4 separate regions of the Homo sapiens genome follow, and all the other regions are linked to region 4. The links come from fine-mapping of genetic effects on gene expression. A gene starts in region 4. Each other region holds a variant in brackets. All regions are shown on one strand. Distances are between the middles of the regions.

The links. PIP is the estimated chance that this variant, and not a neighbour inherited with it, causes the effect.
Region 1: its variant is fine-mapped to the expression of HEBP1 in whole blood (TOPMed, PIP 0.99).
Region 2: its variant is fine-mapped to the expression of HEBP1 in lymphoblastoid cells (TwinsUK, PIP 0.95).
Region 3: its variant is fine-mapped to the expression of HEBP1 in whole blood (TOPMed, PIP above 0.99).

The regions. Positions count from the first base shown.
Region 1 is chr12:13,025,948-13,028,634 of GRCh38, reverse strand. No RefSeq gene overlaps it. Among named protein-coding and RNA genes, the nearest start is that of FAM234B, 17 kb to the left of the region's middle. The variant T/C (reference allele first, on the strand shown) is at 1,237.
Region 2 is chr12:13,030,072-13,032,758 of GRCh38, reverse strand. No RefSeq gene overlaps it. Among named protein-coding and RNA genes, the nearest start is that of FAM234B, 13 kb to the left of the region's middle. The variant G/A (reference allele first, on the strand shown) is at 1,643.
Region 3 is chr12:12,958,620-12,961,306 of GRCh38, reverse strand. All of the region lies in intron 1 of GPRC5D-AS1 (GPRC5D and HEBP1 antisense RNA 1), which reads right to left. Among named protein-coding and RNA genes, the nearest start is that of GPRC5D, 7.8 kb to the right of the region's middle. The variant C/T (reference allele first, on the strand shown) is at 1,625.
Region 4 is chr12:12,998,795-13,001,481 of GRCh38, reverse strand. HEBP1 (heme binding protein 1) reads left to right here and starts at 1,217. Exons shown (of 4, transcript NM_015987.5): 1 at 1,217-1,445. The coding sequence starts at 1,368. The region is part of intron 2 of GPRC5D-AS1 (GPRC5D and HEBP1 antisense RNA 1); the gene reads right to left. It also overlaps the pseudogene HTR7P1. RefSeq lists silencers at 123-272, 1,033-1,152, 1,203-1,352.

The sequences.
Region 1 (2,687 bases), 27 kb before region 4:
CACCCTGAGCGACTCCAGACTGAGCAAGACTCTGTCTCAAAACAAAAAAGAAATTCCCCTTCCCTTTGCGTTAAGTACATGAAGTTTTGTCATTTTACTGCAAAAGGTTTTCCTTTGAGGCTAATATTTACTTCTGCAATCAAGCCTTACATTCCCTAGAGAGGTATTTCTTTATGGAGTTAATTCCTCCTGCCTCTCACAAATGTTTTCTCTCTCACTGCATGGGCTTTAGGTCTTTAAAGACCTTAGATATGGACTCTAAAAGCTGAGGAAATTTCCATTTCCACTAGTAGAGGCTTAAAGACCAAGAATGGCAATTTTCATTATTTTTCTATAGGTATTTTGTCATGAAAGAAATGGCTATTTTTAGAGAAGTGAATGTACTGGGGGTTACTTCAACCTATCTCATCACAGAACTCACTTCATGTTTTTCTACATTGGTTGGCCTGAAAAACCTGAAGTATGTTCTTATTTCTAAGAATGAAGCTATTTTCCTCATTACAAGGCCAACCTTAAATAACAGTAAACATTTTAAAGAAAGGATTTTTGCATGAAGTTTTTCTGCCTGTCTCATATAATTGCTTTCAAATTCTCTTTTTAACCTTAATTTTAATCCTCCGTTTCTGTTCTCTTGTCAGATAAATTGTTGAATATATTTTCCTCCACTCCCCAGTCTTAAAGACCAGGCATTCAAGAGTTTATTTGCTTCTGTTATGAATGTATTCCTTTTTACACCTTAGCCTTACAGATCTGTGGATTTCTTCTCTCTTTTAGTGAATGTGCAAAAAATACAAACTGGCAACATAGAAAAGAAGAGATACAACTGGGACCAATGACCAGATACTACTTTTTCAGATTATTTTTATAATGTTTTAATTTAAAAAGGGATAAAAATATATGGTTCATTTTATTCTATTTTATTTTTATTTTATTATTTTATTTTATTTTATTTTTGAGACAGGGTCTTGCCCTGTGACCCAAGCTGGAGTGCAGTGGTACAATCTTGGCTCACTGCAACCTCCACCTCCCAGGCCCAAGCCTCCCACCTCTACCTCCAGGGTAGCTGGGACCACAGGCAGGTTTCTTTTAATTTTCTCTTTTTGTGTGTATTTTTCAATGAAATAAAATATAATTTATTAATATATGTGCAAAATGAATTTCAGCTATTTCAAATAATGACATAGATCTAAATGTACTAATAATATATAAACATACCAATCATAAGTTTCAGATATA[T/C]AGAGATGTAATTATCTCTCTACGTATATCTGAAATATGTATGCATTCAATATATGTGTGTATATGTAAAAATGTTAATTTGTGTTTTTAAAGTCTGGAAAGATAAATACTAAACTGTCAAGAGCCGTTATCTCTGGGAGGTATGCTGCCTTGCACCCATGAAGGGAAGGTTCTGCTATCACAGGGGAACTTTCACTTTTGACTCCTTTTTCATCTGTATTGGTAGATAATAAACATACTTCCTGTAAAAAATTGTTTAAAAGCCACCAGTACAAAAATAGAAAACAAAATACAGAGTATACTAAGGACATAGTCAATCAAGAGAAACTATATAAAAATGTAGATATTAATTTTCATCAGAAAACTTTTCTAAGATCTATTTAAGTTGTATTAACTTCCAATTATGTCATCTAGTTTAATTTTATAAACTACCTCTCCTGTTTATTTTAATGTTCATCGTATTTAACTTTGTAGGTGTTTATGCTTGACTTTATAATATTAAAACATTTTCTCTGCATAACTGTAGTGAATCATACAAGATTGAAGAGAAATAATCTGTGATGAACTTGGTATCTTTCCCCTTGTTTACCGTAGGCTGGGGAAATGTAGCTCTTGAGGAAATACTATACATGTTTACCCAAGGCAGAATTTCAGAAAGGTTTTAGAGTTAAAGCATGTCTTCACATGGAATACTTTTTGTTTCCTGGCAAGTAGTCAGTTCTTTATTTTCTTCCCCAGTATGCAGTTCCCAGCTTTGCTGAATCCCTATTTTCCCCAGTCTGAGTCTAATCAGAATCAACCTCCTTGGAATAGTTTCACAGGACATTTGAAAGAGATGATAAATCAGTTTCCCCATCTTTTTTCTCTTAAAAAAATATTCTTTCCCCTTGTTTAATTTTGAAAATCTAATAGAACTTTGAGTTCCTGCAAAGATGGAAAACTGGCATCGGTTACTGGCTTTCTTCCCCAGAATCAAACAAGGAGAAGCTCAGAAGGAAACATAGATTCCAGGAACTAATTACATCAACAGTAAGAAACCCTGGGAGAGGGAAGCTCTGCACCTGAAGGTTGGGGGGAAGAAGGGTTGACTGTAGCCCAGAAGAGAATACTGGCAGGGGACAAAGTTAGCGAGAACAAGATTGCATTTTCCTCTGCCCCTTTCCTACTCTGCTTGGAGACAATGATTGCCTACCTGTTCACCATGGAAATCAGTGAAACAGGAGTCCAGGGGCTCAAAACAGGCAACCCAAATCTCCTACATTTAGGAGTTAATAAAATCAGGGGAGAAATGACCAGCCTAGAGCGTTTACTCTTCCATTCCTTCACCAAACTCCCCGGGTATTAACTTCCAAATTATATGTCTAGCCTGGATCTCACCCTTGAATTCTAGACTAGGGTATCCAAAACTGCCTATTTGTAGTTCTTCTTGCATGTCTAATAGACATCTCAAG
Region 2 (2,687 bases), 31 kb before region 4:
AGACACCTGCCACCACACCTGGCTAATTTTTGTATTTTTGTATTTTTAGTAGAGATGAGGTTTCACCACGTTGGCCTGGCTGGTCTCAAACTTCTGGCCTCAAGTGATCCACCCGCCTCGGCCTCCCGAAGTGCTGGGATTACAGGTGGGAGCCACCGCGCCCAGCCAGGAAAGGATGGTTCTAGGGAGAGATTAGAGATTAGATGAGGTCAGATATGGCCAGAGTAGGAACAGATTCTGTAGACTTGGTAGGGAAAATAAAGACTTTGGCTTTTAGTCTAGATTAAATAGAGAGACTTTGAAAGCCTTGAGGCACAGAAGTGTTTATTTGACTTAGATTTTAAAAGTGTTCCTTGAGATCACTTTGCTGTTCTGAGAACAGACTGTGGGGGTACTGGCAGTGATGAATCACTTTTGACTATTACAATGACCCAAGCCAGAACTGATGGTGGTTTAGACTAGGGTAGTTTCTTTGAGGGTGGGGGGAAGTGGTAGGATTCTTAACTTAATTTGAAGGTAGAGCCGGCAGGATTTGTTGAAGAACTGAATGTATGGCATGAGAGAAAAAGGTGTCAGGGACCGTAGTGAGTCTTTTGACCTAGCAACCAGAAGATTGGAGAAGGGGAAAACTGAGAGAGGAGTGGGATGGGAAGCAGACATCAGGGGTTGGTTTTGGATGTGTCAAATTCAACATCCAACTGGACATGCAAGTGGAAATGTTGACCAGGCAGTTGCATGTATGAGTCTTGGGAGTTCAGGGAGAAGTCCTAGGTGGAGATATAAATTTGGTAGTCATTTGGTAGATTCGATAGTAAATTTGGTAGCTAATGCACATAACCCATATTTAAAGTTGGGAAATGGAATAAGATCACAGAAAGCATGTGTGATGCAGGAGGGGAGGGGAGCGTGAACGCTGCAGCATTTCACCATTCACAGTTCAGGGAGAAGAGGAGGAACCAGCCAGAGAAAGCAGCAGGCATAGCCAGTACGGTCAGAGGATAACCAGGAGAGTTTGTTGTCCCTGAAACCAAGCAAAAAAAGTGTTTTTGGGAAAAGCATAGTCAATTATTTTAAATGCCACAGAGAGATCAAGGAAGAAAAGGCTAAAGAGTAACGTGCCTGCCTACAGAGAGCACACACTTTGTTCTACTCTGCTGTGGTTTAAGGGCCTGCAGTTGTCCTGCTGTGCTAGCCTGGGTACACCTCTCTAATTCAAAGAAAGAATTTGCAAGCCCCTTTTACAACAGATCTAAGCCATGTCATTCAGCGTAGCTTTCTTTCAATAGTGAAGCTGATATTTTATCTCCATCTGTCCATCTCTTCAGTCTATTCCCAGATCAATCAGAGCTATGCAGAGAAGATGGGTATTAATTTACTGAGTCCCCTGAACCTTCAGTAATCATAAGTATTCCTTTTATTTATCTCTGCTTAGTAGATGTGAAGTTTTGTTCTCTTATATAGTAGATTTTCCCAGTAGTATTATCTTATCTACTTCTTGCTCTACCTTAGAGATTCTCTCTAAGGCAACTTTCTTCTTCTCTAGTCAAGCTTTTAACATCTATTATGAGAGTCTTTGCAGATGTCCCTACGTAGGATTGGAGAGAGGCCCTAATCCATCCCTGTAGTGACTCTTTCTCCTTCT[G/A]GGAAGCAGATGGGATTAACAGACCATTACTAATTATTGTTCTTAAACAAGGCACTGCAAGATTTATAAACCTCTTCCCAAAAGCCAGGCTGCACATCTGACACAAAGAGGAAAACGTCGCCTTTTTTTTTTTGTTTAACAACTTCACCATGAGGAGTCCCTCTTTGCTGAGAAATTGTGCTTTGTATTTTTTCCTGTTTCTAAGAGGACAGGCATACACTTGTCCTTCGGTGAACCAAATGAAGTAGAGGATAAGATGTGATATCTCTGTAAGCCCACAGGATCTGCTTTGAACAAAGTAATATATTTGAAGTGAAAAGCAATCCTTCTTGAAATAGTCACGAGCTCGTGCCTGCAGACACTTAATTGCAAGGGGTTGGCAACCTGTCTTTCATCCATGTCCTGATGAACAAAGACACACCCCATGTGGGCCAAAGACCACCGGAAACTTCAAAAAGTCCTCTTCAGGCAGAGGACAGGAGCCACGAGGGTCATACCTGGTACTGTATGATGAGGATAAAGGTGATAAGAAATTCTCTAATGGCCTCTGTCCCTTCGTGTCTGAAATTTCTATCTCAAGATCAAAAGAACCAAGGTACAGCCTAGGTAAGAAAGGGCTCTTGTCCTAATTTTGGAAGAGCCTAAAAATGAAACCCAGGAGAATTTCTTAGAGAGATGATATTGCCTGGAGTTACCTTTCCATGAAATTAGACATTTCATTTTCATTCTTTCTTTTACCCTGGAGTTAAAGACTTGTTTGGTTTTTTTTGGGTCTTTGTTTTCCCTTGTCAATACCTTAAAGATTTTTAAGTAGGATTCTTAGAGAGATTCACGTGAAGCTATTTTCTTATTACCATCACAAATACTTTATTTTCATCCTACCCTCCATCACCCTCTGCCTCAAAAATCTCAGATTTTATTCTTTTATTCAGGAGATTGTGCATAAAGTTACTTATTTCAATGAAAAAAAATATTTATTTCTGTATTTCTTTTTACGTCTTGGCCTGAAAATCATGAAACTCTGTTGTCTTATTCCAGAGATTTT
Region 3 (2,687 bases), 40 kb after region 4:
TAGGAATGAACATCCCTTCATTGGAATGCTGGTGCCTCTGGGATTATTTGATCCTATAGGGATATGTGCCTTTGATTTTGACTAGGCTATTTTAAAACTCTGTAGAAATATAAGTCAACATATGGAAAACTGATAGCAATGTGAATAATTCTTGCATACAGACATAAACATAAATTCTGCTCAGTGGAGTTTCAATTGAAGAATTGGAACAAGAGGATTAATTTCCCAGATGGCTTTTCCATTCACGTGCCTGGTGCTTTGTCAAGGATAGCTAGCAGGCTGGGCTCAGCTGGTACTATTGACCAGAGAATCTATATGTGGTCCCTTATGTAGCTTGGGGTTTTCAGAACACAGCAGCTGTGTCCTAGGAAGAGCCTTTGGACCAAGTATTCCAAAAGATCAAAGCAGAAGCTGCAAGGCTAATTTTCACCTAGCCTTGGAATTCACGCATCCTCACTCCCACCACATTTTATTGGTTACAAGAGAGTCACTAAAGCCAGCCTAGATTCAAGTGGAGAGGAATTAGATAGACCCCACCTCTCGGTGGGAGGAATGTGTGATACTTACAGCCACCTTTTAAAATTGCTGCCTTTTAGATTCCTTAAATGTGTTTAACATTTTAAAATGTATCGTACAGCTGAGTGCAGTGGCTCGCACCTGTAATCCCAGCAATTTGGGAGGCCGAGGCGGAATGATTGCTTGATGCCAGGTGTTCAAGACCAGTCTGGCATAGTGAATTTCTGTCTTCACGAAAAATTTTTTAATTGTTTTTGTTTTTAAGACAGAGTCTTGCTCTGTCACCCAGGCTGGAGTGTAATGGCATGATCTTGGCTCGCTGCAACCTCTGACTCCTCCTGGGTTCAAGCAATTCTCGTGGCTCAGCCTCCTGAGCAGCTGGGATTACAGGTGTGCACCACCACACCCAGCTAATTTTTGTATTTTTAGTAGAGATGGTTTTGCCATGTTAGCCAGGCTGGTCTCGAATTCCTGGCCTCAAGAGATCCACCCACCTTGGCCTTCCAAAGCGCTGGGATTACAGGCATGAGCCACCACACCCAGTCTAAAATTTTTTTTTTGAGATGGAGTCTCGCTCTGTCCCAGGCTGGAGTGCAGTGGCGCGATCTTGGCTCCCAAGCAGCTGGGATTACAGGCACCTGCCACCACACCTGGCAAATTTTTGTATTTTTAGTAGAAATGGAGTTTCACCATGTTGGCCAGGCTGGTCTTGAACTCCTGACCTTGTGATCCATCAGCCTTGGCCTCCCAAAGTGCTGGGATTACAGGCATGAGCCACCATACCCAGCCAAAATTTTTTAATTAAAAAAAATATATTAGCTGAGCATGGTGGTGTGCACCTGTATTTCCAGTTATGCCTGAGCCCAGGAGTTTCAGGCTGCAGTGAGCTTTGATAGCAGCACTGAACTCCAGCCCAGGTGACAGAGCAAGACCCTTGTCTTAAAAAAAAAAAAAAAAAAAAAAAGGAAAATAATGCCCCCAAATCAGCTAAATGTGCACTTTTACTATCCAAATACCATGTTCAAAAATATTTGCCAGATGAGATAGTTTTTCAGTTTAACAAAATCTAAATCTTATTTTTGAGTATTTTTCCTCATGGTAACCAGGA[C/T]TTTGACTACGTGTGGTAAGTGGATATGTCAGCTCCAATATCTGAACAAAATATTTCTACAAGTTTTGCCCACTGGCATCTCGATTTCAATAAATCCATGAAGTTCAGTTAAATTTCTTTAGGTGCCAAAGCCTTATGTTGAATAAACCAGGGCTGTTAGTAGTTTTTTAACAATATTTATTAATTCCGCCAGATTTTCTGGTTGTATTTGTTGTCCACACTCATAATTCCTTTACATTTTTTTCAGTTTAAGTAATATTCAACGTATGGCAATTCCTCAAAGAACTAAAAACAGAACTACCATTGGACCCAGCAATCCCATTACTGGCTATATACCCAAAGGAATACAAATCATTCTACCGTAAAGACACATGCACACGAATGTTCATTGCAGCACTCTTCACAACAGCAAACACATGGAATCAACTTAAATGCACGTCCATGACAGATTAGATAAAGAAAATGTGGGACATATACACCATGGAAGACTATGCAGCTATCAAATGAGATGAGAATCATGCCTTTTGGCGGAACATAGATGGAGCTGGAGGCCATTATTCTTAGCAAATTAACACAGGAACAGAAAACCAAATACCACAGATTCTCACTTACAATGCGGAGCTCAATGATAAGAGCTTCTGAACACGAAGAAGGGAACAACAGGCACTGGGACCTACTTGAGGGGAGAGGGTGGGAGGTGGGAGAGGAGCAGAAAATATAACTACTGGGCACTGGGCTTCATACCTGGGTGGTGAAATAACATGTACAACAAACCCCCGTGACACGCGTTTACCTATGTAACAAACCTACACATGTACCCACAAACCTAAAATAAAAGTTAAAAATTTTTTTAAAAAATGTTCGATAAACAATATACTTTTCCAACGAGGAGATGATATCTAATCCAGTTGAGGCTAAAATAAAATTTAAGGCCGGGTATAGTGGCTCATGCCTGCAACCCCAGCACTTTGGGAGGCCAAGGCAGGTGGATCACCTGAGGTCAGGAGTTCGAGACCAGCCTGGCCAACATAGTGAAACCTCATCTCTACTAAAAACACACAAA
Region 4 (2,687 bases):
CTGCCCAAGAAGCCGCCCCACCCCCCTCCCCACCCCCGCGGCCGCCACAGGCTCCGGCTTTCGGCCCCGGGGCTTCAACTCGCCGGTTCCCCTCCGCCCGGCCCAGCTTGAGGCCTGCACCGGCCGCTGGGCAGCGCCAGGCTCGGCCTCGGGGCCCCGCCTGTCCCAGATCCCCGGCCGCTGCGTGAAACGCGAGAGCGCTGCCGAGCGGGGACTCCCTGAGGGAGGGACCTCGGACCCCGACGGACGCCCGGGACGCGCGGGCTCTCGGGCGCTCCGGCGGGGCTCGGCCCGCGGCTCCACAGCCCGCTGCACCCGCGCGGCTCGGAGCAATGGAGGATCAGGCAGCGGCAGAAGCTTCCGTTTCCTCCTTTTTAAATGGCTCCAAAATATTTCTTGTCGGTGGTGTGGAGTAGAGATTTATTGGTAAAATACTTGACAGAAAGCAGGCACTCAGCTGAGTAAATGGTGACAAAATTGGTGAGAAGATTTTTGAACAGGAGTGAACGAGAAAAGCCATGCTTAGAAAAGTCACCTGGAAACTGTGATTTAGAGGGATGGTAGGAAAGAGTGGCAGCAGGAAAGTGGTTTGGATGCTCTTTCAATGGTCTAGAAGAGGTCATGGGGCGGGGGTAGAGGGACAGCTACCAAGACAGGGAGCCTGGCCGCCGCTGTACCAGCGGGATCGAGCCTTCGGGTAGAGGACCGGAGAAGCGTGAGCAACCCGGGGCTCGGAGGTTGGAGCCCAGGCACCTGAGAGAGGACGTTCCCCACCACCGCTGCCTAAAGCCACTCCAGGCGAGAATCGCTTTCCAGGGCCCCAGCGGATAGGTTAGACTCAGAATAAGAGAAGGGGTCTGCGGAGGGGGACGGCCTGAGGCCCGCGGCCGGGTTCCCTCCCCAGACACCCGCGGAAAGCCCGAAAGGAGGCGGAACACGGCCCAGCGGCTCGCCACGGCGGGCCCATCCCTTGCTTAGCCGCCTCGCACCCTCGCCTCACCGCACTGCTGCACTGCTGCACTGCTGCCCTGCTGCCCGCCCTTCGCATCACTGACCCGCCCTCTCTCCGCCCCCTCGCCTCGCCGCCCCGCCCTCTCTCTCCGCCCCTTCACCTCGCCGTCCCGCCCCCTTGCCTCACCGCCGGGCTGAATTGCCGCCCCGCCCTCTAGCCACGCCCTCTGGCCCCTGCCTCTAGCCCCGCCTCTCGCCTCGCCGCCTCGCCGTCCCGCCGCCTTGCCGCCCTGCCACCCTGCCGCCCTGCCGCCCTGCCGCCCTGCCGCCCTGCCGCCGGTGGTCGCTGCCCGTGGTGCTCCGTCGCCCCCGCCACCTCACGTCCTCCCGTGCGTCGGGAGCGTCTCGGCTACAACATGTTGGGCATGATCAAGAACTCGCTGTTCGGAAGCGTAGAGACGTGGCCTTGGCAGGTCCTAAGCAAAGGGGACAAGGTAGGCCCGCAGGGCTGCCGAGGACCTGAAGGATTGCTGCCTCCCACCCCCACCCTCGTCGGGGCTGCAGCGGGTGCTGAGGGGCAGGTGGGGCAGGAATGTGCTATCGAAGGTGCGTTCTGGTGTCTGTCGCGAGTGCGGCTCTCCACCGCCCAGCATTTGGACTGGGAAGGAAAGGAGTGAGAGGTCCCCCTGCAGCCGGTGGTGAGAGGAGGGGGGTAAACAGGAGAGACTGATCCAAGGAGAGAATCCCAACTTGGGGAGTTGGGCACTGCCTGTTGAATGCATTCTTTCGTTTAAAATATTCCAAACATTCCGAACAGTTTGATTTGTTGAGAGACACTCGGTTGCAGAAATGAGTGTCGCAAGAAACTCCCAAGTACTAGAGAACTGCGGATAGTAGCCCCCTTTATCCGCGATTTCAGTTACCTGTGGTCAGCTCTTGTCCATAACTATTAAATGGAAAATTCCAGAAATACAGAAGTCCTAAGTTTTAAGTTTCCGGCCATTCTGCGTAGCAGGATGAAATCTTGATTCCTGGGACCGGAATGCCCCTTTGTCCAAGGTCAGCCTCCTATCTCTAGTAGCCGCCCTTAGTCACTTAGTAGCTAGCTTGGTGATCGGATCGACCGTGGCGGTATTGAAGTAACCCTTATTTTACTTAGTAATGGCCCCAAAGTGCAAGCTTAGCAATGCTGGCATATTGTTATAATTGCTGTTATTTTATTATTGTTGTTCATCTCTTACTGTGCCTAATTGATAAAGTTAAACTATATCATAGGTATGTATGTATAGGAAAAAACGTAGTAGATACAGGGTTCAGTTTTGTCCACCGTTTCAGGTATCCACTGGGGGGCTTGGAAGGTATCTACTATAGATAAGGGGGACTACTGTGTAAAAGAACAAGATCTGTGCAGAATAGATATAAATGCGCTACGCAGGGAGCACAGAGGCAGTCAATTCTGCCAGGGGGCTATGATGGGGACCTCAGTGGAGTGTCCTGAGCTGGGGCCTCAGGGATGTGTAGGAGTGCACACAACAGAGAAGAGCATGCACAAAGGCCCAGAGCTGTACCATTGCTTTTGGCCAGTTAGATCCTCTGGAGTTGGGTACCTAGAATACAGAATGAGTGAGAAGAGCATAATTGCTGTCTTCCCCCAAATTTATATCAGTGCTAACATGGGCTAACTGGACTGCACCCCTGAAAACAAGGAGAGTGCTGCTAGATTATAATCTCCTGGT